Linked DNA regions of Homo sapiens. The protein of the gene in region 2 interacts with the protein of the main gene of each other region in a pairwise test. Each region holds a gene or a part of one and is shown on either strand. Other genes may lie near its edges.

Region 1 (7,778 bases), about 30 Mb from region 2:
TTCAGCCCCCAGCCTGGTAGGTTTCCTCAGTCTGTACTCACCTGGGGTCTCATTCATGCTCATGGGCTTGAACAGTTTGCATACAGGGGCTCCCAGCTTCCTGGGCTCAGCCTGAACCTCTCGCCTGGGCTCCAGACTCCTGTCTCCAGCTGTGTACTCTCAATTGTCGAAAAACGCCCCAAACTCACTTGCTCGGAGCTGGGCTTCTGATCCTCCCCCACCCTGCTCCTTCCTCAGCCACCCCCATCTCAGCTGATGCAGCTCCATCCTCCCAGCTGCTCAGGTTAAACACCTTCACTGTTTTGTTTACTAAGACACCATCCACATACAGAAGCTATCGTCTCTGCCTTCAAATTAAATACATACAACTTCTTTCTTCCTGGTCCCCCACCCTGGCCCAACCACCAGTATCTCCCACCAGGACCACTGCAGTCATCGCCTCCCTGAGGGCTCTCTGCTTCCACCCCTGTCCCTGACAGTATCTTTTTCCACCAGCAGCCTGAGGGGTCCAACCAAAATACAAGTCAGTTAGGCTACGGGAAACAAGCTAGTCACAAAGAACCACAGATCACAGGGGCCATTTATATGAAATGTCCAAAATAGGCAAATTTGGCCGCATGTGGTGGCTCATGCCTGTAATCCCAGCACTTTGGGAGGCCGAGGCGGGTGGATCACCTGAGGTCAGGACTTCAAGACCAGCCTGGTCAACATGGTGAAACCCCATCTCTACTAAAAATACAAAAAATTAGCCGGGCATGGTGGCATATGCCTGTAATCCCAGCTACTGGGGAGGCTGAGACAGGAGAATCGCTTGAACCCGGGAGGCGGAGGTTGCAGTGAGCCATGATCGTGCCATTGCACTCCAGCCTGGGCAACAGAGCGAGACTCTGTCTCAAAAATAAAAATAGGCCGGGTGTGGTGGCTCACGCCTGTAATCCCAGCACTTTGGGATCTGAGGTGGGCAAATCACCTGATGTTGGGAGTTTGAGACCAGCCTGACCAACATGGAGAAATCCTGTCTCTACGAAAAATACAAAGTTAGCTGGGCATGGTGGTGCATGCCTGTAATCCCAGCTACTCAGGAGGCTGAGGCAGGAGAATCGCTTGAACCCGGGAGGCAGAAGTTGCAGTGAGCTGAGATTGCATCATTGCACTCCAGCCTGGGCAACAAGAGCGAAACTCCGTCTCAAAAAAAAAAAAAAAAAAAAGGCAAATCTATAGAAACAGAAAGTAGATGAGTGGCTGCCGGGGGCTGGGGGAAGACAGGGAAGATGGGAGATTGGGGATGGCTAAGAGGTGCAGGGTTTCTTTCTGGAGTGATGAAAATGTTCTAAAATTGATCGTGGTGATGGTTGCATAACTCTGAATATACTAAAAGCCATTGAATTGTACGCTGTATTTTATTTTACTTTTTTTTTTTTTTTTTGAGATGGGAGTCTCACTCTGTCGCCCAGGCTGGAGTGCAGTGGCGCGATCTCAGCTCACTGCAAGCTCCGCCTCCTGGGTTCACGCCATTCTCCTGCCTCAGCCTCCTGAGTAGCTGGGACTACAGGCGCCCGCCACCACGCCCGGCTAATTTTTTGTATTTTTAGTAGAGACGGGGTTTCACTGTGTTAGCCAGGATGGTCTCGATCTCCTGACCTCGTGATCTGCCCACCTCAGCCTCCCAAAGTGCTGGGATTACAGGCATGAGCCACCGCGCCTGATCCTGTACACTTTATTTTTAATTTTTATTTATTTTTTATTTTTTGAGACGGAGTCTCGCTCTGTCGCCCAGGCTGGAGTGCAGTGGTGTGATCTCGGCTCACTGCAAGCTCTGTCTCCTGGGTTCACACCATTCTCCTGCCTCAGCCTCCCGAGCAGCTGGGACTACAGGTGCCCTCCACCACGCCCGGCTAATTTTTTTGTATTTTTAGTAGAGACGGGGTTTCACCATGTTAGCCAGGATGGTCTCAATCTCCTGACCTTGTGATCCACCTGCCTTGGCCTCCCAAAGTGCTAGGATTATAGGCGTGAGCCACCGTGCCTGGCCTTAATTTTCATCTTTTTTTGAGACACAGTCTTGCTCTCTCGCTCAGGCTGGAGTGCAAAGGTGAGATCTCGGCTCACTGCATCCTTAATCTCCCCAGCTTAAGCGATCCTCCCATCTCAGCCTCCTGAGCTTCTGGGACCACAGAGGTGCGACCCCACACCAGGATAATTTTATTTTTTTGTAGAGATGAGGTCTCACTATGTTCCTCAGGCTGGTTTCAAACTCCTGGTCTCAAGCAAATCGTACACTTTGAGGTGATTGTATAGTGTGGAAATTATATCGCCATATATATATACATTTTTTTCTTTTTTCTTTTTTTTTTTTGAGATGGAGTCTCATTCAGCTGCCCAGGCTGGAGCTCAGTGGTGCGATCTCGGCTCACTGCAACCTCTGCCTCCAGGGTTCAAGAAATTCTCCACCCTCAGCCTCCTGAGTAGCTGGGACTATAGGTGCACACCACCATGCCCAGCTAATTTTTGTATTTTTAGTAGAGACGGGGTTTCACCATGTTGGCCAGATGGTCTCGATCTCTTGACCTCGTGATCCACCCACCTCAGCCTCCCAAAGTGCTGGGATTACAGGTGTAAGCACTGCGCCCGGCCTTATATTGCAATATAATTGTTTAAAAAAACACAAGTCAGATATTGTTTCTATGCTCAAACCGTCCTGTGGCTCTCACCTCACTCAGGGTAAAAGCAAAGTCCTTGAGGCCTCTAGGGCCCTGCACGATCTTCCCCCATTGCCTTCCTGACCTCAGCTCCCATCCCTCCCTCTTGGGTTACCTGGCTGTAGCCACGGTGGCCTCCTTGCTGATCCTCAAACACATCAGGCCTACTTCTTTTCTTTTTTTTGAGACGGACTCTCATTCTGTCGCCCAGGCTGGAGTGCAGTGGTGCAATCTCGGCTCACTACAACCTCTGCCTCCTGGGCTCAAGCGATTCTCTCACCTCAGCCTCCTGAGTAGCTATAGCTGGGACTACAGGTGTGCACCACCACGCTTGGCTAATTTTTGTTTTGTTTTTGTAGAGACAGGGTTTTGCCATGTTGCTCAGGCTGGCCCCATCTCCTTCTTTTTTTCTCCCCTAACCCTACCTGATTCCTCTCCCAGCACTTATCTCCACCTGGCACGGTATGGCTCTGTGTCTGCTGTCTGTCTCCTCCTCCTGATGTCAGCTCCATCAGGCAGGGCTTTGTATTGCTCCCTTCTGTTTACCCGGCGCCTAGAACAATGTCCAGCACAACATTTTTTCTTTAACGAGAAAAGAACTGGGGCTTCCAGAGACTCAGCGCTGATTGGGTCCCAGGCCCCAGAGTGCCCAGCACCCACAGGAGAAAGTCCAGCCTCTTCCCACGGCTATGGGGCCTCAGCACTTGCCCCCAACTCCGCCTGTCTTCCCACATGTCGTTCCCTGGGCCAGGCTCACACTGCCTCTTGCATCAGCTTGGATGTTTTTTTGGATGTTCCTTCCTCGGGGAAGCTGGCCTCCTGCTCCTTGGCCAAATCAGATCACCCTGCTCTTCTCTCAAAAACAGCCAGCCAAAGAAAGAGAGAAGATAGAGAAAAAAAAAATAACAAAAACAAAAAACCAACCATCCAGGCCGGGTGCGGTGGCTCAGCCGGTAATCCCAGCACTTTGAGAGGCCCAGGCAGGCGGATCACCTGAGGTCAGGAGTTTGAGACCAGCCTGGCCAACATGGTGAAATCCTGTCTCTACTCAAAATACAAAAATTAGCCGGGTGTGGTGGTGCACGCCTGTGATCCCAGCTACTTGGGAGGCTGAGGCACAAGAATCGCTTGAACCCTGGAGGCCGAGGTTGCAGTGACCCAAGATCACACCACTGCACTCCAGCTTGGGCGACAGCAAGAACCTGTCTCAAAAACAAACAAGCAAGCAAACAAATCAGCCACCTCCTACCCTGACTGCTGGGAGTCCAGCCTCCCTGGGCCAGCCACCAGCAGGAGGTAGGGAGGCTGGGAGACAGATGAGTAGAGCGGACAGTGACAGGACACCTGCTCCCGCCAGGCCCTGGGCTAAGCTCCCCTCTTAAGTGATTCCACCTAGTCTTCCCAGCCATTCTCTGGGGTAGGTGCTACCATGATCATCGCCCCATTTTATAGATGAGGTGATTTGAGGCTCAGAGAGAGGTGTCATAGAGTGATATGCAGAAAAGGGATTTGAACCCAGGTTGACTCCAGAGTCCATTCTTTTTTTTTTTTTTTTTTGAGACGGAGTCTCGCTCTGTCGCCCAGGCCGGACTGCGGACTGCAGTGGCGCAATCTCGGCTCACTGCAAGCTCCGCTTCCCGGGTTCACGCCATTCTCCTGCCTCAGCCTCCCGAGTAGCTGGGACTACAGGCGCCCGCCACTGCGCCCGGCTAATTTTTTGTATTTTTAGTAGAGACGGGGTTTCACCTTGTTAGCCAGGATGGTCTCGATCTCCTGACCTCATGATCCACCCGCCTCGGCCTCCCAAAGTGCTGGGATTACAGGCGTGAGCCACCGCGCCCGGCCTCTTTTGTTTTATAGAGATGGGAGCCTCGCTATATTGCCCAGGCTGGTCTCAAACTCCTGGCCTCAAATGATCCTCCCGCCTTGGCCTTCTAAAGTGCTGGGATTACCGGTGTGAGCCACTGCTCCTGGCCAGAGTCCATGGCCTTTTTTTTTTTTTGAGATAGAGGCTCACTCCATCACCCAGGCTGGAGTGCAATGGCGTAATCTCAGTTTCCTGCAATTTCTACCTCCCAGTGCAAGCAATTCTCCTGCCTCAGCCTCCCGAGGAGCTGGAATTATAGGCATATGCCACCATGCCTGGCTAATTTTTGTATTTTTAGTAGAGACAAGGTTTCACCACATTGGCCAGGCTGGTCTCAAACTCCTGGCCTCAAGGGATCCGTGTACCTCGGCCTCCCAGAGTGCTGGGATTACAGGTGTGAGCCACCACACCAGGCCAGAGTCCATGCTCCTAACCATTCCTTGGGCAAGGGCTGTGGGCCTGGGGTGTGAGTGACAAATCTTCCTTATAAGGAACGTGGGAATTGCAGAAACGTGGCTTTTCCAGTCTACTGAGTAAAAAGGAACAGAAAGTAGCCCAGCCTTCATGCCCACAAGGCTCACAGGAGTCACAGCAGTGCCCCTGCAAGAGTTTGTTTTTGGTTGTTTTGAGGAAGGGTCTCACTGTGTTGCCCAGGTTGGAGTGTAGTGGTGCGATCATGGCTCACTGCAACCTCCGCCTCCCAGGTTCAAGGGATCCTCATGCCTCAACCTCATGTGTAGCTGGGACCAAGGCGCCGGCCACCATGCCTGGCTAATTTTTGGATTATTTTGTAGAGATGGGGTCTCACTTTGTTGCCCAGGCTGGTCTTGCCCTCCTGGGATCAAGCAATCCTCCCACCTCAGCCTCCCAAAGTGCTGGGATTACAGGCATGCCTCTGTGCCTGGCTTCCACTGTTTAAAAGTTAAAATCATATTTATTTGCAAACTTTGGATCTCAGTTTCCCTACTTGTTTTCTTTTCTTTTTTTTTTTTTTTAAGACGGAGTCTCGCTCTGTCACCCAGGCTGGAGTGCAGTGGCACAATCTCGACTCACTGCAACCTCCACCTCCCAGGTTCAAGTGATTCTCCAGCCTCAGCCTCCTGAGTACCTGGGACTACAGGCGTGTGCCACCACGTCCAGCTAATTTTTGTATTTTTTAGTAGAGACGGGGTTTCGCCATGTTGGCCAGACTGGTCTTGAACTCCTAACCTCAGGTGATCCGCCCGCCTTGGCCTCCCAAAGTGCTGGGATTACAGGCATGAGCCACCGCAGCTGGCCCTCAGTTTCCCTACTTGTAAATGAGTGTGTGAGCTGGTACTACACAGAGTGCTGGGATTTCAGGCGTGAGCCACCATGCCAGGCCTGTGTATGGTTCTTTTTTTTGTTTTTTTTTGAGACTGAGTTTTGCTCTTGTTGCCCAGGCTGAAGTGCAATGGCGCGATCATGGCTCACTGCAACCTCTGCCTCCCGGGTTCAAGCGATTCTCCTGCCTCAGCCTTCCTGAGTAGCTGGGATTACAGGCATGCGCCACCACGCGTGGCTAATTTTGTATTTTTAGTAGAGACGGGGTTTCTCCATGTTGGTCAGGCTGGTCTCGAACTCCCGACCTCAGGTAAGCCACCTGCCTCAGCCTCCCAAAGAACTAGTATTACAGGCGTGAGCCACCGTGCCTGGCCAGGCCTGTGTAAGATTCTAATCGAGGATGCTCTACGCGTGTTCCTGCCTCAGAGCTTTTGCACGTGCTGTTTCCTCTAGTCTAGCAGGAGTGCCCTTCTCCCAGATGTCTGTCAGGCCTACTCTATTCCCATCTCTACTTGAATTTCACCTTCTCAGAGAAGCCCTCCCTGATTACCCTGTCTGTATAGCCCCCTTCCATGACTCACCATCCTCTGAATATGACTTATTTATCCTCTTAGTTCTCACCACCTCCTGGTATACAGTCTGTTTTGGGACTTCTTTGTGGTCTGTTTCCTCCAACTACATAGAATGTCAGCTCCAGGTCGGGTGTGGTGGCTCACGCCTGTAATCCCAGCACTTTGGGTGGCCAAGGCGGGCAGATCACCTGAGGTCGGGAGTTCGAGACCAGCCTGACCAACATGGAGAAACCCCATCTCTACTAAAAATACAAAATTAGCCAGGCATGGTGGCGCATGCCTGTAATCTCGGCTACTCGGGAGGATGAGGCAGGAGAATTGCTTGAACCTGGGAGGCGGAGGTTGCGGTGAGCCGAGATTGCGCCATTTCACTCTAGCCTGGGCAATAAGAGCAAAACTCAGTCTCAAACAAACAAACAAACAAGCAAACAAAAAAAGAATGTCGGTTCCATAAGGGAAGGGGATTTTGTCTTTTTCTCTACATTATTCCCTGCACCTACCACAGCGTCTGCCTTGGATGAGGTTCTCAATATATATTTGCTAAACGAGTGAATGAAGTGGTAACAAGTTTCTGAAAAAATAAGTTGGCCATCTCTGCTCTGGTCCTATGGGGCCATCTCACAGATGGAAACACTGAGGTTTGATTCAAGGTTTGAGAACAAGGGTCCCATGTGATTGTGTCACCTTCCTGCTTAGGAGATTTTCATGCCTCCTGAATGCCCTCAAGAGCAAGTCCAGGCCGGGCGTGGTGGCTCAGGCCTGTAATCCCAGCACTTTGGGAGGCCGAGGTGGGTGGATCACCTGAGGTCGGGAGTTCCAGACCAGCCTGGTCAACATGGTGAAATCCCATCTCTACTAAAAATACAAAAATTACCTGGGCATGGTGGCAGGCACCTGTAATCCCAGCTACTCAGGAGGCTGAGGCAGGAGAATCACTTGAACCTGGGGAGGCGGAGGTTGCAGCAAGCCAAGATTTCGCCACTGCACTCCAGCCTGGGCAACAGAGCAAGACTCCGTCTCAAAACAAAAAACAAAACAAAAAAAATAGTAAGTCCAAATTCCTGACCTTGACTTCCAAGCCACGTGTAATCTAATTCTGGCACACTCATTAACTCCTGGTCAATATTAACTCTTGTTATTGCTGGGCAATCTTGCTCAGTGGTTAAGTGCCATGGACTGGGGGTTGGACGCACACTTATGCTTGAGTCCTGACTCTGTCACTTACTTGCTGTGTGACCTTGGGTGGGTGAATGAACCTCTCTGAATCACATAATCTTGAACTGTCTTGTTTGATCATGCCCATGTTCCTCCCCTTCTCCAAACTCTTCAGTGGCTTCT
Region 2 (7,955 bases):
ATCACTTGAGCCCAGGAGTTCAAGACCTGCGTGGCAACATAGTGAGACCTCATCTCAGAAATAAAAAATTAGCCAGGCATGGTGGCATGCACATGTAGTCACAGCTACTTGGGAGGCTGAGGTGAGGTGGGAGGATTACTTGAGCACAGGAGGGCGAGGCTGCAGTGAGCTATGATTTTGTGCCACTGCACTCCAACCTGGGCAACATAGTGAGACCCTGTCTCAACAAAACAAAACAAATGCTTCTCAGTTTTATACTTTTCCTTTCTCCTTTTTAAAAAAGAGTATATATTTTCTTGAGACAGGATCTTGCTCTGTTGCCCAGGCTGGAGTGCAATGGCATGATCATAGCTCAGCAATGTTGAACTCCTGGGCTCCAGCAAACCTCCCAGTCAGCCGGGCGCAGTGGCTCATGCCCGTAATCCCAGCACCTTGGGAGGCCAGGGAGGGCGGATCACAAGGTCAGGAGATCAAGACCATCCTGGCTAACAAGGTGAAACCCCGTCTCTACTAAAAATACAAAAAATTAGCCGGGTGTGGTGGCGGGCACCTGTAGTCCCAGCTACTTGGGAGGCGGAGGCAGGAGAATGGCATGAACCTGGGAGGCGGAGCTTGCAGTGGGCCGAGATGGCGCCACTGCACTCCAGCCTGGGTGACAGAGCAAGACTCCGTCTCAAAAAAAAAAACAAAAAAAAAATCCCAGAGTCTCGCTGTCATCCAGGCTGGAGCACAGTGGCACAATCATGGCTCACTGCAGCCTCAACCTCGCAGAGCTAACTTTTTTATTTTTAATTTTTATAGAGAAAGGGTCTTGCTATGTTGCCCAGGCTCATCTCAAACTCCTGGCCTCAAGCAATCTTCCTGCCTCGGCCTCCCAAAGTGTTGTGATTACAAGTGTGAGCCACCGTGCCTGATCTAAAAAAAAAAAAGAGTCTTATTTGAAGGAGTAACACAGAGTACCAAAAATTAAAAGATAACTGGAATTAGGTTAGGTTGCCTTCAATCTTTATTATCTGAGCCAAGAGTAGGGTGACAACCATCCTCAAAGATGGTCTCCATTCCTGCCTCTTAACGTTATGTAGATCCCTCCCAACTAATAGAGCTAGCCAGTGCAACCAATAAGATTTATGAAAATGACTGAGTGTGACTTCTGGGATTTTCGCCTTGCTCTTTCTGGGATCATTCAGTCTGGAGAAAACCAGCCACCATGTTGTGAGGATACTCCAGCAGCCAGCCCTAGGGAGAGATCCATGGGGCCAAGAATTATTGGCCAGCATCAGCCTGCCAGGCATGGGAGTTTAAGTCACCTTGGAGGTGGGACCTCCAGCCTCAGTCAGGCTTTCAGATGACTCTAGTCCACATAGAGATCCTAAATGTAACCTCATGATATTCCAAGCTAGAACCACCCAGTGAAATCACCTATCCATTCCAAACATAAAGAAACTGTGTGAGACAATAAATGTTTCTATGACAAGTACAGTAGCATTTCAGACCTTTGTTTGAGGGCCTGATTCTGGATATTTCTGTGCTGTTTACCACTGCTCTCCTCTTCCCCTCTCAGTGCTAGAGATGCAGCTTCCTTTCCCACGTATAAATAAGGTAACAGGGTTCAAAAGCAGGGCGAGTTAATAAAAAGATTTATCAGTCACCTTTTATGTTTAATAATGCTAACATTTGCTTCGAGGCCTCTAGGACTTACCCTTAAAGCTATTAGTTGTCTGAAATGTGAATTAAAATGCCTTTGACTTTAGTGCCCTACTTCTTAAATAAGGGGAAGACTCACATTGTAAATTACTGTGGTTTTCAGTTTATCAAGATAAAGGAAAAACTAATCATTACTTTTTTAGCTTGGCTATCTCAGTGCCCACCCAAACCCAGAACTACAGCCTACAAGACCTAGAGCTGGAATTCAGGTTTGGTCATTAGTGACCTTGTATCTCAGTTTCCTCATCTATTAAAAAAAAGAGCTCCATTACTCAGCTACCCCACAGCACCCAACCATTCATCTTCTGGTTTCTTCAAGAGTCCTGTTTTTAAAAACCATGAAACTGTCTTCCAGTTCTTGGTAAGACTTGGTGAGAATTATATTCCAATCCCAGGGATGTCAGTAACAACCCCATAGTCTTTCCTCCTGAACTAGGAAAGCTACAGAAAGGCTCTGGCAGAGCTGCCCAACTTGGGCACTACTGATGTTTGACGCCAGATACTTCTTTGCGGTAGGTGTCATTGTGTATACCGTAGCAGGGCAGCATCCCAAACCTCCATCCACTAGATACCAGCAGCACTCCCACTCCCATATGTGACAACCAAAAATGTCTCCAGACATTGCCAGATGTCATCTGGGGCAGAATCACCCCTGGATGAGAACCCACTGGGCTGGGGGATGGTTGCTAGAAAAACTGGGGTTCTTGGAAAGCTCCTGACCTGGCAGCCAGGGTAGAGGGGACTGGCACTACCTTCTTGCCTATGCCAACATAAAGTGGTCTACAAAGGAGCCCCACAGACTCACGTTGCATTCTCAGTTCTCAAAATTCCAAGTAGAATGCAGGTTACCTGGCAACCACACACGCTCAAGCCTATAATACCCTCACCAAACAGGGAGGCCTAGTGTAAGTCTCCTGGCCGAGAAGCCTCATCAGTCACTGCCAAGGCAAACCCAGGAGGCCTTGGCAATTCACCCAGTGATGATTTACAGTCGCCCAAGCATATTGCGGGGGGCGGAGAGGGGCTCTCGGATCTGTCACCCACTCTCCCTTTCAAATCCCATTGGCCTCCCACTGGCCTCCCTGGCTGATCTTCTAACAAGCCAGGCAGTTCCTGCCCGTAAGCCTTTTACAGCAAAAGCTCCCTGGGCCAGATATCTTTATTCGCTCCCTCCATTTAGGTCTCTGCTCAAATGTCACCTCTTTACAGAAGGCTCCAACCACTCCACGTAGTGGAGCGACCCCCGCACGGTACTGACCACCCTAAAATATATCCTACACTCGCTTATTTGCCTATTAAGATCCTCGCCTCTAAGCTGCTTGAGGAATTCTTGTCTGTATTCCCAATACCCAGTCTGTACCGGACACGGTTCATTTGACAGACGCAGAGGGAATTAACATGGAACCTTGTCATTCCTTGCAGTTCAGCCCCTAGGGGCCCAAGGCTCCCCGCTCAGCCCAAACCCTTCCAATATTTACTTATCCCCCTAGGGCCTGGCGCCTTTCCCAGTTCTGAAATAGACAAAAGGGGGTGGTGGGTGGGATCGGGATGGGGGTGTAGAGCTGCGGCGTTTTTGCAGAGAAACTGCGCGGGGGAGGACGCGACAATGGCGACGGCAGCCGAGCCTGCTGCCTGCTCGCAAGGACCAAGGCCTGAGAAAGGGAAACCTAAGGCGTCGAGGTCCAGGAGCGCAGGCCAGGGACGGAGGTGGTGGGGGCGGAGACCTCGTGCGCTGAGGCCCGGACCCACGGACACAGGCGACAGAAGCCAAGACATCAGGCGGCCGGGAGCCGGGACGCCGGCTGCAGACACAGAGAGCTGAGGCAACGAGGCGTGAGGGCAGCGACCCTGAGGCGACGGGCCAGCGGCGCCATTTTGTGACCGCAGGGAAGGCAGTGACGGGGCCCCAGGGGAGGTGCGGGCAAGCCTGGTGCGGCATCCGCACGTCCCTGTCCCATCCCCCACGCAGAGCCCGACCCCACCCTGCCAGGCCCACCTGTGTAGCTCATGGTGGCGGGCAACACAACATCCGACGACGCCGGCTTCTGCTGCTCTGAACATCCGACGCTGCGATAGCTGCTGCTAACCACAGGGTCCCCTCCACACACACCCGAGCCCCGCCTCCCGACCGCATTGGCTCATACCGGCCTCGGCTTCACGTCTATTGGAAGGAACCGCTGTCTATCTCTATGCCTCCTCATATCAGTGGCTGGAAGCTGCTGGCAATCTCGTGAGAGCCCCGCCTTGTCCCCGCCTTCTGTTATTCTAAGGCCTCAGTGATTGGCCTACAGAAGCCGGCAGAGAGGCGGAGTCCTATAGAATTTGAGGGGGCGGAGCTGTGCACTACGGAAAGGCCCAAGGCCCAAGCATGGTCGGGCTGGAGGAGCGCCCGTACCCTGGAGACCCGCCAGAGGGAGTCGGGTCTACGGCTCAGGGCAGGGCTGGGATGCCAACTCCGCCACCGAGGTGCTGGGTAGGGGACCTAGCTAAGTCTCTCAAATTCTCTGGCCTTCGGCTCCAAAACAAGCATAGCAAAGCCATGTTGAGAAGAGAAAATTAAAACAGCACCAAACAAGATGCTGGACACACGTTTCAACATTACGTGACAAAGTGTGTGTAAAGAAATCATTCTGGTGCCAGTGCACTGAATAAATGTGATTAATCGTAACAAAACGATAATATATTTATATGGCATATGCTTATATGTGTAATAATTCCGTTTGTATTGTGTGTCATTCGAATGCTCCTTCAAACCTGCAAAAAGCTTTTAATCCTCACTTAAAACTGAAGCTTGGAACTCATGATTTGCTCAAGGTCCTTGACAGTTACGTGTTAAAATGGGAGCTTTGCTTCTAAAACCCTCCTGATTCACTCTGGGCTCGAGAGATCCTGCAATAGTGCAGCCGGGCACCAGTCATGTCCTCAGTCTGTTTCCTGGGCATATGGAAACCCTGCCAGGGACAACTCATAATTTCTAGAGATGACAGAGCTGCACCGAAGAGTACTTAACACGTGTGTTTGTGAAAACTCATTAAGCTGCGCAATTACGACTTCTACGCTTCGTGTGTTTTAAAACTTTTTTTAAGGTATGCTGTTTCTTTTTGATATTGTTGATTTCTTTAGGTGTAATAGTGGCATTTACAACGTTGAGAGAAACATACTGAAATACTAAGAAGTTAACTGATCTTATGGCCAGGATGTGCTTCACACAATTCAGACAGGTAGAGAGAGGAGGAGGAAGCAAGGAGCTATAAGATAAATCTCTGACAGCTGAAGACATTGGTCATGGGTTGGTGATGGATAGATGAGAGTCCATTTTACTGTTTGCTCTACTTTTGTATAGTTGGAATTCTCCATGATAAACTGTTTTAATAAAACTCCCCCCACCCAAATGAGGCTTCTGCAGAACTTGCTGCCATACGGAACAAAGCCACTTCTGATGTGTTAAGTGAGCAAACTCCAAACATGAAGCAGAGATCTGACGGATAAGCACTCTGGCTTCGGGGTTCATCTCCCCATCAGCCTCAGGGATGCCTGCCTGTCTTCCAAACCAAGGCAGGGCCCCAGGACACGTCTTCTGCGCCCTGCAGGTTCGTTCCTTCATCGCACTTGCCACAGTCATCATTGTACCGATTTGATTTCGTTCACATCCAACACCCTCAGAGACCACGGCTCAAAAGCTGAGACTTTGCTGCCTGAGGTGTATTGAAGTGGCTTGAGCAGAGAAGAGCAATGCTCAGAAAGTTTTAGGAAAACATCCCCCTGCAAGAACTGGAGGTGACTCTTCCAAGGACACACATGACCCTCACTTCACTGCATGATTGGTGGGGAGGAACTTGCCATATGACTTTATAAGCTCTTGTATCATTTGACTGTTTTTTGTCACATCTAGCCTATACCACTTTTATATTTCAAAAACTGACTTACGGGCCGGGCATAGTGGCTCACGCCTGTAATCCCAGCACTTTGGGAGGCTGATCACTTGAGCTCAGGAGTTCAAGACCAGCCCGGGCAACATGGTGAAACCCCCGTCTCTACAAAAATTACAGATATAAGCCAGGGGTGGTGGTGCATGCCTGTGATCCCAGCTACCTGGATGGCTGAGGCAGGAGAATCACTTGAACCCAGGAGGCAGAGACTGCAGCGAGCCGAGGTCCCTACACTGCACTCCAGCTTGGGCAACAAAATGAGACCCTGTCTCAAAAAATAAAATAAAAAAATAAAAACTGACTTATGAAAAGTTGAAAGAGGAAGAAACACCTTTGAGTCAGCTCACAAGATGCTCTCCCTGCTTCCTAAGTCCTGGATACATCCACCCACCCACAGCACAGGATGGAGAGAAGTGGTTGCGGCCTTCTGCCACCAGGCGAGATGTGCGTCCTGACCCCACAGGAGCAGACGTGTGGGCCAAGACCACCCTTGTGGGCGTTATTGCAGCCTGTTAATCCCTCCTTCCCAGGAAGGGGTATGGTGGGAGGGCCCAGAAAGCAGGGCTGGGGGTAGAGGTGGCCCCTTCTGTCCACACGCCATGAGGTCGTTCCCACTCTCCAGCACTTGACCGTTTAGTAAAAACGATGAGCTGAAAAACCACATGCAATAAACAAGAAGGAGCAGCCAACAAAATCTCTTAAAATCTCAGAAATGTTCAATAAACATTTGCAGAGCGAGAAAATAAATAACATCGCAAAGGAGCCAGTGGCTCCTCTTTTCCCCGCATGTTCCTTGGGTCAGGGGTGCATGTGTCTCACTAGAAGTCACATGTATTAAAAGCAGGTGAGTTCCAGCTCTCTACAACCCCACTGGCCCCCACCCAAATGCTCCCAACGGGTCCCTGACACCCTCGCTGGTAGCTCCTGCCTTTGATAAGCTCCTCTAGCCTCAACTGCTTCTTGATCCTGGCTCCCTTCCCAGACAGGCTGCCCAGAACCCTGGTTCATCTGCTCACTGGAGCCGCTTTGCCAGCCAGCCAGAGACCCCCTCCCAGCCATGGCCTAAAGAGCCAACAGCTGGGAACTTGGGCTCATCCCCAGCTGCGTCTGGTCGGCTTGGCGGCCAACTGGAAAACCCAGGGCCTCCATGGCGCTCTGGACAGAGGAGGCCCCGATCCCAGCCCCGGCTGCCAGCCAATGCCAGCCTGTCCACTTGACAGAAAAACACACGCTGGCCGCCTGCCCCAGGGTGTTTCCAGAAGAGAAATTTAATCTAATTTACATACTTCTAGGTACATCGATAACCAAAATGTGGCCACTGAAAAAAGTTAAAAGGTCAATCAGCTCCTGGCTTCTAGCTGGCCCAGGATTGCAAAATAAAAAGATCCACGTTCCTTATTCTCTACACAAAACGCGTTTTTAAAAAAGTGAAAGGTCTAGGGAGCTATACATAGAAAGCAACAGTGAAAAGGGAGAGGGAGCAGGAGTGGGGGAGGAGAGTCCCACCCCCCAACCCCACCCTCCAGGGCCCCAGAGCCCCTGAGGCTCTTTGGGGGGCCTTGACATGGCAGGAGGCAGCTGTCAGCTCTGAGCTCTTCCCAGCTGGGAAGGCCCCTCTCGGGGGCAGCCAACAAGGATTTCCGTGGCATTGTGGGCTCAGTGGGGGGCTCCCAGGCCCCAGCAGGCCCCACAGAGGGAGCGTGGCTTCCCCTGAGCAAGCACCGTGGCATGATGTGGTCGTTCAACCCAGGAACTGGGGGTCCGGGGCAGGTCCCGGGTCTCACGAGGTGCGTGTTGTGTGTGTTCGCATGTACATGTGTGTGAGAGGATATTCATGGGGGAGAGAGGGAACCAGAACAGGGGTCTTTGGGGTCTTTGCAAATGGCCACGGATGGCAGACATCGCCCTGCCTGGCTGCTAGACGGGGGAGTGCTGTCCTCCCCTGTGACCAGACCGGCTGCCATCAGAGACCTGGCTGCTGCCCCTGCTGGACCAGGTGGGCATGGGCTGAAGGAAGACACCCTGTGGCCCCAGAGTCCTCGGGCTGGGGGAAGGGCAGCTAGCTGGCTCCCGGCGCCCTGGCTGTAGTGTGCCCGGCCCCCAAGGGGCGCCGGTTTGAGGTTTTGGCTTGCTCCTTTGGAAACGGAAAGAAAGAGGAAGAGGGACAAGGACACAGAGGAGGAAGAAGAGGAGACAGAGGTGGCACGAGAGGGGATCTGGAATGCTTTTGTGTTAGGGAGCCTCTGCCGCCGCTGTCTGTGCCTGCGGGGCCTGGGACTCCTCAGGTGGGGGGTCCGCTTTGGAGAAGTTCATCTCCAGGAT
Region 3 (4,773 bases), on a different chromosome or scaffold from region 2:
ACTGACGACCAGCACCCGGCGGGCGCTTTCCAGTGGGGACAGTTCCCAGGAACCCTAGAGGGAGGGAGGGAGGGAAGACCGCCAGCGCTGGTGGCGAGCGGTTCGGTGGAGCCGGGACGGGGTGCAACGGGGCGTAAGCCCAGGTGACCCGCTCCCCGTCCTGCCTACTGCAGAGAAGGAGCGCGGCGGGGAACCCAAGGGGCCCGAGGACAGTGGTGCGGGAGGCACGGGCTGCGGCGGCGCAGACGACCCAGCCAAGAAGAAGAAGCAGCGGCGGCAACGTACGCACTTCACAAGCCAGCAGTTGCAAGAGCTAGAGGCCACGTTCCAGAGGAACCGCTACCCCGACATGAGCATGAGGGAGGAGATCGCCGTGTGGACCAACCTCACCGAGCCGCGCGTGCGGGTGAGCAAGGGGTGCGCGCCTAAGGGCACCCGCGCAGAGGGCTCCCGGGCCGCCTCTGCTGCAGCCCTCCAAAGCTTAGACCCACAAGCAGAACTTCACTCTCCCACCATTCAGACCTGCTCCCTCCCTCCACCGGAGATCCCCACCTTAGGCCCTGGCCCACTAGCGTCTGCCAGGCCTCCAGGCGCCTCGGACCTTCAACCCCTTTGACCCTCATCCTACCTGATCCTCGGACTAAGGCAACCCCAGCCCAAAGACCTGTGCCCCCAGGGGACTCCCCCATGCCCTATGGGGCCCAGGACCCACTCAGATGTTAGCAGGATACCCTGGGCCAGAGACTGGGCAGTGGATTCCCTGCCGCTGGGGACCTCGGGAGCTGTTGGCCTTATCCCGAAAACGAAAGGGAAAGGCAGGTCCTGTCTGGCTGCCTCGGAGAAGCCTGAAAGGTGCCTGGGTTTGGGGCTCTCAAAACTTCCTGGAGCAGTGGTCCCATCTCATAAGCAGATTCTCTAAAAGCTCAAGATATTCTCCACCCTCCCCAGCCATCAGTAGGACCCTTTGCCTTCTGCCCTTTCCGGAAGGTCTCCCGTCAGGTGAGGTGGGGGGTGGCTCCGGGAGCCAAATGTCCTTCCCAGTCCCTTTTAGGATATGCCATCTCAGACCCAAGACCAGCCTGCATTCTCCCTCTTCTCACCCGTTTGGTTTCCAGTAAAAGCAAGGCTTTCCTGCCAGGGTAGCAAGAGAATCATTTCTTCCCTGGGGGCGTAAATATTTAATCAGATATTGGGAGCACCTCCCAAGTCGACCAAAATCCCAGCTGGCCCACAGACTCCTTACCATAACCCCAGCCCTCACCCCTCCCTAGGCAGGCTGGCCAGCCCAGTGGGACTTGGAATGAAGACACAGCACTCAGTAATCCTGAACTCACTAATCCTGCCCAGGTTTATGGTGGTAGGGGTGGGTGGGGGTGGAATCAGGTAGTGTCAGTGCTGGGGACTAGGGAAAGCTGAGAAGCAGGGATCTGGCAAACTAGCTCAGGAAACTCCACTCAGAACTGGAGGAAAATCCGAGTGGGCAGAGGGCATGCGGTAGGCAGATAGGTAAGGATGGGGGAGGACTAGGAGGTTCTTACCAAATTTGGGGGGAGAAAAGGAAGGGCAGGAAGATTAGAAGAATCTAGTAAGAATAGAAAAAATTTAAATATTTGTGGAGAAACATATTTGGCATATATTTAGGCGGCAGGAAAGAAATTAAATAGGAAGCAAAAAGATCAGGTATTTGAGAAAAAGAATCAACTGTTTAAGGGGAACAGTGCAGGTCAGATATTTGGAAAGGATTCAAAAGCCTAATATTTGAGGACGATTCAAAAGGATCAAAAATGGGGGATAAACAAGAAAACAGACTGAGGGAGAAGAAAGAGGTTCAGACAGTGGGGTGGACTGAACGAAAATAAACATTTGGAGCCAAAAAGAAAACATCAAATATTGCCGATAAAGATGATAACAAACTATTTGAGCGATGAAATAGATCGAAGAATTGGGGGAGTCGGAAAGTCCTATGTCTCAGGGAGGAAAAATACCTTTTGTATTTGAGGGAGAATAAAAAGACTGAAATATTTAGTAGATAGAGCGAACCTGTTTGGGGGAGAAGGCAGAGGTGAACTGGTTGAGAGAGGAAGAAAGAAAACGAATATCTGTTAAACGAGAATCCGTATTCGGAGAAGAAAACGGATATAATTTCGGGAGAGGATAAAGATCGGAAAAAGAAATTAGTATTTTCTGGGGACAGGAAAGGAACCATTGTGGAGGGAATGCAGGAGCGGAAATATCGGTCGAAGGAGAGAAACGACGTTCGGAGGGCAGCGGGCCGACGGAAGGCTCCAGGCGGTGGGGAAGGGGGTGGGGTCCCTCCCGGCCCGCAGCGGCCCTGACCCTTCTCCCGTCCCCTCCCCCAGGTCTGGTTCAAGAACCGGCGAGCCAAGTGGCGTAAGCGCGAGCGTAACCAGCAGCTGGACCTGTGCAAGGGTGGCTACGTGCCGCAGTTCAGCGGCCTAGTGCAGCCCTACGAGGACGTGTACGCCGCCGGCTACTCCTACAACAACTGGGCCGCCAAGAGCCTGGCGCCAGCGCCGCTCTCCACCAAGAGCTTCACCTTCTTCAACTCCATGAGCCCGCTGTCGTCGCAGTCCATGTTCTCAGCACCCAGCTCCATCTCCTCCATGACCATGCCGTCCAGCATGGGCCCAGGCGCCGTGCCTGGCATGCCCAACTCGGGCCTCAACAACATCAACAACCTCACCGGCTCCTCGCTCAACTCGGCCATGTCGCCGGGCGCTTGCCCGTACGGCACTCCCGCCTCGCCCTACAGCGTCTACCGGGACACGTGCAACTCGAGCCTAGCCAGCCTGCGGCTCAAGTCCAAACAGCACTCGTCGTTTGGCTACGGCGGCCTGCAGGGCCCGGCCTCGGGCCTCAACGCGTGCCAGTACAACAGCTGACCGCCCCGCCGCACCACGCGGGCCGGCGGCCGGAGCGGGGAAGGGCGCGGGCGCGGGCGCGGAGGACGCACGCGGGGCCCCGGCTCGCAAGCCCCAGCTCACCGCGCCGCGGACCTCACACCTGCGCAGCCCCCTCCTCCCACTTCCCACTCCGGGTTGGTTTTGTGTTTGCTTTTCCGGACCCCACTCTGCCCTCCAAAAAGACAAAAAAAAAAAAAAAAAAAAAAAAGCAAAAAGACGTCGGAGAAAAGTGCCGCGAAAAAATGGATGAGTTGCAATTTCTCTCGGGATGGCGCGGGTGGTGTGTGTGTTCCCACGGGCCCCGGAGGCCCACTCCGCGGAGGGCACGCGGCGCGGTAGGCGAGCGCCGAGGCCCAGCGGCCGGGGGAGGACGACCTCGTATCCCGCGTCCCCGCCGCGCTGGATCCGGACTGAGTGGCCGGGCCTGCGGACTGGATGTGCGGGGCCTGGACTTGCCTAGGATTTCCCGACCCCGTACAAACCAAGTTGCCCTCTCCGAGCTAGGCCCGGCCGAGAGCGCCTTAGCTCGAGTCGGATCCGTGTTGGGGCGGGCGTTGGGTTTGGGGGGACGGTGCCCCCAGCCCAGGATCGGGCACTCAGTGGAGCCGCACACGGCCCCGGCGCGCCTGGTAGAGCCTCGCTGGCCCCGCGCCCCGGAGCCCTATATTAAGGCCACGGAGCGACAGCGGGCAGTGCGGGCCTGGCGGGAGGTGGGGGAGGTCCATCTCAGAACACCCCAGCCTTGAGCTTAGCTGCAGGCCCAGGCCCTCTGCTCTGCTCCCGGGCTAGGAGGTGGCCCTCTGTCTGGGCGAACAGCCCCCTCCTCACCGCCCGCCGTGCAAGAGTCGAGCCGGCAGAGCAAGGGGCGCGGCCCCAGGGCCCTGCGCCCACTTTGCACACCCGCTCTCCGGCCCGCGCCCCTGTTTACAGCGTCCCTGTGTATGTTGGACTGACTGTAATAAATCTGTCTATATCGACTTGTCCATGTACGTCTATTAAAACCATAGTCCGAGCGTGCTAAGCACTGCTGAGCCCCGACTGCTTCATTGGGCTGAGGAGGGAGGCGGATAGAAAGGGAACTGTGGGTAGAAAGGGAACCGGGCCCCTTGGGTAGGAGCAGAGCGCCGAGGCAGCCCCCGCCGAGGTCTGCCTACCCCGCTTCCCCACCACCATTCTTGACCTGCTCAGCCTGGCTCCCATGAGGGCACCGTCCTGCGTTGCGAGCCTGTCCGGTGCGCACCCGCTAAGCTGTGCCTCTCGGCGTTGTCCGCGGGACGCCTTAGCGAGAACCCCCTCCCTCCGCGGCTGCGGGACTCTACGGGTTTCTTCCCAGGCCGGGTCTGCGGTGACCCTCGAGGCCCCAGGGTGCTATGGGGCCCTTGCCTGCCAGGAGCGTTCGGGCAGGGGCTGCTGAGAGCCTCTTTATGCCTGGGGTTGCCTTTTCTTCTGTGGGCCCAGCAACAGCCCCTCTTCTCTCCTCGGAGCCAGGGCCAGGCTATTCCAGGAGGACTGAGGGGGCTGGATCTATCAGAGTATAGCGAGGGCCTCCCGCTGCCTTTCTCCCTAATGCCCGCAACGTGCCGAGAGCCCACCGAGGGGCGTGCGGCTGTGCAGGAGAAAGTGTCCGTCACACAGGACTCACTTCTCACTTCCAATCCATCCCAACTTGTGGGGACTGCTGGCCGCCTCCGCCCTCCCCTGGCTTTTGGAAACTACTGAACAAGACCAGCCTGTAAACTGCCTGTAAAATTCTGCTTCCCTTAAGTAAGTCATTTCTAATGGCAAAACAAAATGTTTGCAGCTGCAGTGGGGGAGGAAGGAGGGGTTGATATTCTGCTTTAGAATCACC
Region 4 (8,256 bases), on a different chromosome or scaffold from region 2:
CTCTAGTCTGAAGGGAGTGTACAGAGGAAGCGATCATGGGACATAAACCATCATGGCAAAATGGAACATGGAGCACCCCGCAGCTGGCGCCAGTGCATTAAGTGCCAAATGGCTACAGTTCCCCAGGAAGGAGGGGTCCCTGGCCACAACAAAACGTGAAATCCAACACTCTGTTCCTGGGAAGAGCCCTGATGTTGCAGCTCTTCTCTGGTGGCAAGTCTCCAGGGAACTCCACGGCCCCTGAGGCTCCCCTGCAGGTAGCCTGGCTCCAGCTGTGCCTACAGCCTTCCCCAATCTCCTGTTTCTTGGCATTCTGTACACACCTCGACGATGGTATTTACCAAAAGCCCCCCTCAAGACAGCTCCATAACACAGGGAAGCAGGGAAATGTCATCATCTTCACTCTACTGATCAAACATTGCTACAAGTGCCAGGTCCACTACGAGATTCCACTAGATATGCAACCAAAAGGCAAGAAGAGAGCCACGCCGGCTGCCTGGGCAGAAGGGGCCTGGCCTTAGACACGACCGGGAACACAAAGGAGGCAGGAGCAGCCAGTCACCCCTGCCAAATCAGCAGGAGAAGCAGAAAGTCAACGCAGGCATGCCTGCTGCTGGTGGAACCAGGACCTGGCCCAAACCTTCTGAAGCACAAACAGCATTGGGCCCAGGCAGTTACTGAAACTCCCCATCCTGCTAGAAAGAACTACAACTCTGTGGAAAAATGGCCGATTCCAGGACTGAGACACGGAGAAAACAAGAAAAGATGAGCCTGAACACATACCTGAACCAGAAAGCAAGAAAGTGCTCACAGAATGATGGGGCGGCATCTAAAGGTGCCTGGAGCGCCCCCAACTGGCCACACATGGCACAGTCTGAGCATTAAGGAATAATGAGCCATGCACTTGGGATTAGTAAACTGCATGCATCTTACAGCTCAATAAAATTTTTAAAAAGACAGTCACCCAGACATTTAGGGGAAGAAGTAATGCCAATTCTACACAAACTCTTCTGGAAAACTGAAGAGGAGAGAACACTTCGAAACTCATCCTATAAGGCTGGCAAAAACCCTGATACCCAAACCAGGTATTACATGAAAACTATAGACCACAGTTTATCATGAACATAGACAAAAAAATTCTTAACAAGATTTTAGCAAATCAAATCCAGCATACATAAAAAGGATACTACAGCACGACCCAGTAGGATGGAATTCAAGTGACTGTAATTCACTGTAGTAATAGAAAATGATTCACCACGTGATCATCTCAAGAGCTGCCAAAAAGGAAACTGCCAAAATCCAACATCCATTCTTGATAGAAACACACCAATCCTGGAGCAGATGGACACTGCCTGCCTTCTGGGGAAGGGGGCCTTGCCCCGCTAGGAGGAATTTTTGCCACATTAAACCTGCCTCTAATCAGGCTCCTACCAGGAGTCCAGTGTACAGTAAACCCAGAGAGTGGAGAAGCAGGTTAAATGCACGAGGAAGCATTTCCTCTGATAGATCCAGAGCAGGGCATTCTAATTATAGAATTAGACTCTATAAAAAGTCAATGCCACAATAAATGTTGGGGACTGTTCCAGAAGCAAAGAGACCAAAGTAACCAATTGTAGTACATGAACTTGGACTGGATCCTTACTTATAAAGCAACAATTTGCCACAAGTTAGGTACCATGATGTGGCCATGCACTGAAAGTCAGGAGACACCTGGAACAGTTAATTTCTCAGGGGGCTACCCTCTGCAGCTGTGTAGGAGACCGCTCTTGTTCTAGAGCACTTGCTCCCAATCCAAGGCCAAGGTTGACCCCACCACCCAGGTTGTCTGGAGGCATTCTTGGTTTTCACGACTAGGGAGGGTACCCCTGCCATCCTGCAATGCGCAAGACAGCATCTCACCATAAAGACTTACCCAGCCACAAATGTCAGCATGGCTGGGTTGAAAATCCTGGTCTCCAGGAATGCTGAAGACTCTTGGTGAATTCTATGCTGTCACATGTATGTATTTTGGGATGTCAAGAACTAGAGCAAAATGTTAACTACTGAACTTTCGGTGGAGAGCACAAGCGTATGCACTACACTGTCTTTTCAGTTTTTCCAAATGTTTGAACTTTTAAAATAAGAAGTTTGGGAAAAATAAAACAGCAAAGGTGGAAATCTGATGGTGCAGGGGGACCTGCCCTATATAATTTGCAGGAAAGGGCTCCGAAGCCCAGGAAGCATGCGGCTCAAGTGGGAAGCTCTTCTGGTTTGGGAGGGCGCCACAGGAGACAGTGCTTAGGAATTTGATGTGCAACTAGAATGAGGCCCTGCAGGCCTGAGAGGGAACTGACCCTGAAGGGCGCGCACAGCTGTCAACAGACCTCCAACTACCCAAGGGCGCTGCTCACCTGTCAACAGAACTCCAATTACCGGAGGGCAACGCAGTCAGATCTACCACCAGAGTCAGCCTGCCGGCCAACCAAGCACGGAGGCCTAGGGCCATCAGGCCTGGAAGGGGGTGGGGCACAGGGAAGCCCGAACAGGGAGTTTCTGCTAAGAAGGTGGGTGCTGCGCAACTGAAAACAAAACTCGTTGGACACATTGGTCACCAAAAAGGCGCTGTCTCAGTCTCTGCGCCCTTGATTTTGTTAATCTTAGGGACCTCTTCCGAACACTCCCAAGGAAGGAGCCGAGCTGCACAGATACCAAGAGCTGCCGGGAGGCGCCGACCCCGAGGAGGCGGCACCTCCTCCCGCTGCCCCCGCGCACCTCGATGCTCGTTCTGTAGGCGCAGGCGCTGGTTGTACAGGCTCTTTTCGGTGAGGTGCTGGATCTCCAGTAGCCCCTGCACGATTTCGAACACGGTGCCGTCGAGAAGCGCCAGGGCCAGGTCGCTCAGCGTGGTGTAGGACAAGCGCTGCTGGAATGAGCTGCGGGGTAGAGGAGCGCGGTGAGCCCCGGCGGGACACGATGCGGCCTCGGCAGGCCGCCGCCCGCCCCGCCCGCGTACCTGGGCAACTCCTTCACCAGGCTCTGTAACGCCGACAGCAGCTGGTAGTGTCGCTCCTGCTGCCGGGCACCGTCCGCCACCTCCTCCAAGGCGCCCGCGTAGCGCTCCATGGCGCGGACGCCCGCTAGCCGCCGGCTGCAGCGACGAGCGCCCCCAGCTCACGTCATCCCGACCGCGGCGCGTCCCGCCCCTTTTATGACAGTCCCTAGCGCAGCGCGCCCCGCCCGTCTTAGGACAGTCCCCGATCGCGGCGCGCCTCGCGCCTTCCCCGCCCCACCACGCGCCCCGCCCCTTGCGTCATTCAGAAGGAGACGCGCCCCGTCCCTCCGTGGTGGCTGCAAGGAGGGTTTCGCTCAGCTGAGGCTCATACCTTCCTGCTCCCCGGGCCACTTTAGAGGCGAGACTCCGTCGCCTGGATATCGCAGGACCATGTAGAATCCCACCGGCCCTTGCTGAGTCATTGCGGGCTGAGGTCCGGGCTCCGCGCCGGCGCGCCTGCGAGGTGGACTGTCCCGGTCACCGGCCTTCCCAGAGGGAGGGGTCTCGGGCCAGAGCCCACAGGACCTGGGTCTAAGGCACCATCGCGGCCGAGCAGTGGTGTTGGGGTCTGTCTGCGTCCTCTCTGCCCCCGGAGTGAGACAGACAAGACCACCCTAGAGCCTCTGGGCCAGGAGAGTTGGAACCGGAGTCCCCATCTGGGCCTGCCGTGGTCGCCCCGGGGTGCCCAGCCCCCAGCCGGAACCGCGAGCCCAGACTGCCCTCTCCCCGCTCCCCAGACCAGCTGCTGGGCCGGGGCTGGGGAGCTTCTGGTGGCTGGTGTGGGCGGCAAGCCACCCAGGCGCTGAGGCAAGAGACCGAGGACACGAGCTGTTCCAGTATAATAAAATATAAAACAAGAATAGTTATACCAGATATAGATCTTAGATATGATTATATATGAATATCAATAATCATTAGTTGGTAGCAATTACTCTTTATTCCAGTATTATAATAATCCTCACTCTATAATCATAACCTAGGAAAAACCAGGCCATACAGAGATAGGAGCTAAGGGGACACAGTGAGGGGTGACCAGAAGACAAGAGTGCGAGCCTTCTGTTATGCCCAGACAGGGCCACCAGAAGGGCTCCTTGGTCTAGCGGTGACGCCAGCGTCTGGGAAGATGCCCGTTGCCAGGTGGGCCGTGGTCTAGCGGTAGTGAAAAGTGTCAAGGAACAACACCTGCTACTTAGCAGACCGGGAAAGGGAGGCTCCTTTTCCCCGGGGGAGTTTAGAGAAGACTCCGCTCCTCCACCTCTTGTGGAGGGCCTGACATGAGTCAGGCTTGCCTGCAGTTATCCGGAGGCCTAACCATCTCCCTGTGATGCTGTGCTTCAGTGGTCCCGCTCCTAGTCTGCCTTTATTATGCCTAGTCATCCTGTACACCTGGCTCTGCCTTCTAGCTAGCAGTAGTCAATTAGTGAAAGTACTAAAAGTCTCTGATATGCAGAAATAATGGCATAAGCTATCTTTCTCTCTGTCTCCTCTCCCTCTCTGCCTCGGCTGCCAGGCAGGGAAGGGCCCCCTGTCCAGTGGACACGTGACCCACGTGACCTTGCCTATCATTGGAGATGACTCACACTCTTTACCCTGCCCCTTTTGCTTTGTATCCAATAAATAACAGCGCAGCCAGACATTCGGGGCCACTACCGGTCTCCGCGCTTTGGTGGTAGTGGTCCCCCGGGCCCAGCTGTCTTTTATCTCTTTGTCTTGTGTCTTTATTTCTACACTCTCTCGTTGCGGCACACGGGGAGAGACCCACCGACCATGTGGGGCTGGTCCCTACAGGCTGGGGCTGAACCGGCTAGGAACACGTTTTAATAGGAGGGGTTCGGGTGGAGGAATGGCTCCTGCAAAGGCCCTGCCAGAGTCAGGTCAGGTGGATGGGCGAGAGGACCAGTGTGGCCAGGCTGCGGAAGCCAGCACAGGAGACAAGGGCGGGTGCTGTGCATTACAGAGGCTGCTGGGGGCTTGTCCAAAGAGCAGCAGGGGGCACGGAAGGGCTTGGGGACGCAGACACGATCAGACTTGCATTTCACCAGGCATTCTTTAGCTGCCTGCGGTGCTAAAGAATGGGTGGCTGGGCTGTGTGAGATGACCCTGCTTTGACCAGGTTAGGAATTATGACTGGTTTCCAGAGAGAACATTGGTTAGCAGTTGGCTATGGGGGAGAGGGGGGCATTGAGCCAACTGGGGTCCCCCTGAAGTGCCAGCAAAGTCTCTGGTTTTCTCCAGGATCTGTTTCCTCAGTCCCTGGCAGGATTGGCTCCCCTGCAAGCCATGTCTTTGTGATCCCTTCCAGACAGAAACCAGGAGTGAATAAAGTGAATAATGACAACAAGCGCTCAGGCCACTGCCGTGGAGGGCGGTCCACAACCCAGAGCTGGTCATGCGCCGGGCACCCTGGCCTCCAGGTCCCTCGGAATGGCAGGAGCTGGAGGTGGGATTCGAGATTGTGGGAGCTGAGTCTGTAGTGAGTGACCAGGAGCCAGCTGGGGCTGGGCTTGGTCACTGTCACCTCCCCCGGAGGTGGTGAGTGGGATGAGTAGCTGGGTGAAGATGCCTGCCTGTTTCACCAGTGTCCCTGCCCTCAGTCCCCCAGTCCATGAAGGGTGTCTGTGTGGAGACTGGGAGCATATAGGGCAGCCCCACGTGATGATATGTCTGTGGCCAGCTGGGCAACACTGTCGCCAGCTCCGGGGTCTGCCAGGTCTGCCAGGTGGGGTGGGGGCTGTGAGCCACAGCAGCAGCAGACCAGGCCTGGGTTTGGACACCTGCTCCTCTGCCTTGTCCGGGTGCTGATGCAGGAAGGCCCCTTCTCCAACCCTTGGTGCAACATCTGACCTGAACCAGCTTCCCCAGCCCAGCAGCACTGCTCCCCTAATGTGGATGTCGACCTAAAGAAACAAACTGAACCACAGTTCATATAGAGAGTTTGTCTGGACCAAGGCTGAGAGAGCTGCCCAGGACACACCAAGTTGCCCTGGGAGTACTTCATTCAGCCTTATTACAAGCAAGTTTTTAAAGACTGAAGGGGACAAGGAGTGGGCTGATATGAAGTCAGCAGGAATTCTGACTGCTTTCCAGAGAGAACCTTAGTGACTGGCTATAAGGTGTTGGACTACAGGGGAAGAGTTATGGTGTCCAGCGTCTGGCTTTTTATGTCTACTTGGTGTCAGTCTGGAACCCACAGAGCAATTGGCTTCAAGAGGTCGTTAGCTCAAGTGGGAGTGACATGTGACTGCTGTTTCAGTCCAGTGACTCTCTGGGCCAGATAATTAAAGGGGTCTCGCATTCCTCAGATAAAAAGTTCTTTTCTTTTGCATGGACGTGAGCAGTGGGTCACTCAGGCATGGGGACTCCTGTGGGTCTTCAGGGAGGGGTCTCATCCCCCAGAGCCCTAGGGATGGGTGATATGTGTGTAGGAATGGGGGAGCTGGTGCGCAGACATGTGTGCCCCTTGTGTGCGTGCACATGGTGGACCCCATGGCTCTTTACATCAGGTGGTATCCACTGAAGGCCTTTGCTCTGTGGCCACTGTCCACCTCCACTTAGCTTCCCAAGTCCTCCAGGCTGGCTGGTGACACCTTGGGTTAGTGTGGAGTGACTGGTGTATGTTGGGGAGCTGCAGATCCCCTTTCTCTGACACAGGTGTGTCTGGGCAAACACCAAGTCTGTGGTTTGAAAGGATGGGAGCCTGTGTGTGTGTGTGTGCATGTGCATGTGTGGCAAAAGGCTTTGCTGCATGGCTTTTGTGTGGGTCTGTCTTTGAGTGTCACGTGTGCCTTTCTGTGTTTCTCTGTGAATTTTCGTGTGTCAGGTTGTGAGTCCATTGTGTGGGCAGAGAAACAGCTCTGCCGTGAGACCCTGAGCCATTGCAGGATCCCCATAGGCCACACAGAGGTGCACACAGCACCTGACCTAAGCCTGCTCCTCCCAGAACATCAGGCTGCACCCAGGCCACTGGTCACTTCCTCTGTCTCCCAAGACTGTTCCTCACTGCCTGCCTCACTGGCCCTGGTGAGGGTTCCTCACTGCCCTGCCCCTGGCCCTCACAACAGAGCTGCAGATGAGGACACCACCCAGCTGCAGTCTCAAGGGGCTCCTCTGCATTGGGTGTCCTGCAATGCATGCCCTCTGACCCCTTTTGTTTCGGTGCTGTCCTTTTTAGTGTGTGGCACCAGGATGGCAGGGAGCTGCCACCTCAGACTTCTCTTATTTTCACTCTGTGAGTAATAAGCTCTGAATGAGAGGGGCTCATTGTGTCTTTACTGTCAAATCAGTCAGGCCTTGGCCTTGGCATGTCTCGCGTGTGCTTGACAAATGTATTGCTCATGGGGTCTGGTGGAGGCACAGCACCCTTTTAGAAGACAGGGTCTGTGCAGACCAGTTACGGGTGACATTTCCTGGGCACAGCTCTTGCCTAAGTGGTGGGGGATGGGAGGAGGACTATGTGTGGAACACAGGATTATCTCAGTCATTCCATGTGTGATAGTACATGAAAGACATGAGCAGTTGTAGTGCTGTTCACTGTGCAAAAGTATCCCTTCTTCCTAACGTGGGAGGGCTGCTTTTGCAAATATGTCTGTGCTATTTCTCACTGGTCCTGCCTCTTCTGTTCTTGGAATCAAACTCAGTCCACGACAGATCCCACTACTAGCTGAATTTCTTTATTAGTCCTATCACAAATGAAATTTTGTATTAGCACCTCAGGGGATTTCTTTAATTTTGCAAAAGTATGTCATCCTAATTTATTATTTTTTTCCTAAGATCTGGCAATGAGCATCGGTTCTCTGCTTCCTATCTTACCCTGCTTACTCACAGCTGCTTCAGGTGACCTCCTTTTTAGGTTCAGAGTTATGGCTGACCTCTGCTTTAATCAAAACAGAATGTATTTTGGTTTCTTATTTTGTTTATCGCTTCTATCTTCAAATTAGAAATCCTAGAGCTCATTAGATTTACTTTTATGTTTATTTTTGAAAGAGCATCCTGCTCTGTCACCCAGGCTGGAGTGCAGTGGTACAATGACTGCTCATTGCGGCCTTGACCTCCTGGGCTCAAGTGATTCTCCTGCCTCAGCCTCCCAAGTAGCTGGGATTACAGGCACCCGCCACCACACCTGGCTAATGTTTGTATTTTTAGTAGAGTCAGGGTTTCACCATGTTGGCCAGCTGGTCTCGAACTCCTGATCTCAGGTGATCTGCCCACCTTGACCTCCCAAAGTG

What was found.
Region 1: the proteins of AKAP8L (region 2) and MYPOP interact in binary tests that used the Homo sapiens proteins (3 or more experiments, as listed by UniProt).
Region 3: the proteins of AKAP8L (region 2) and PITX1 interact in binary tests that used the Homo sapiens proteins (3 or more experiments, as listed by UniProt).
Region 4: the proteins of AKAP8L (region 2) and DGCR6 interact in binary tests that used the Homo sapiens proteins (3 or more experiments, as listed by UniProt).

Annotation. Positions count from the first base shown.
Region 1 is NC_000019.10:45,892,381-45,900,158, forward strand, and holds part of MYPOP (myb-related transcription factor, partner of profilin), read right to left. Parts: intron 3,253-7,778; coding exon of another isoform or gene 3,242-3,252; exon of another isoform or gene 2,089-3,241; intron 1-2,088. UniProt on the Homo sapiens protein: Transcriptional repressor; DNA-binding protein that specifically recognizes the core sequence 5'-YAAC[GT]G-3'. Dimerization with PFN1 reduces its DNA-binding capacity.
Region 2 is NC_000019.10:15,415,211-15,423,165, forward strand, and holds the start of AKAP8L (A-kinase anchor protein 8-like), read right to left. Parts: upstream 3,779-7,955; 5' UTR 3,714-3,778; coding exon 3,701-3,713; intron 1-3,700. Other genes in the region: protein Wiz, read right to left, coding at 7,866-7,955. UniProt on the Homo sapiens protein: Could play a role in constitutive transport element (CTE)-mediated gene expression by association with DHX9. Increases CTE-dependent nuclear unspliced mRNA export.
Region 3 is NC_000005.10:135,026,909-135,031,681, reverse strand, and holds the end of PITX1 (pituitary homeobox 1), read left to right. Parts: intron 1-173; coding exon 174-406; intron 407-2,360; coding exon 2,361-2,903; 3' UTR 2,904-3,948; downstream 3,949-4,773. UniProt on the Homo sapiens protein: Sequence-specific transcription factor that binds gene promoters and activates their transcription. May play a role in the development of anterior structures, and in particular, the brain and facies and in specifying the identity or structure of hindlimb.
Region 4 is NC_000022.11:18,901,221-18,909,476, reverse strand, and holds the start of DGCR6 (protein DGCR6), read right to left. Parts: upstream 3,158-8,256; 5' UTR 3,103-3,157; coding exon 2,993-3,102; intron 2,913-2,992; coding exon 2,752-2,912; intron 1-2,751. UniProt on the Homo sapiens protein: May play a role in neural crest cell migration into the third and fourth pharyngeal pouches.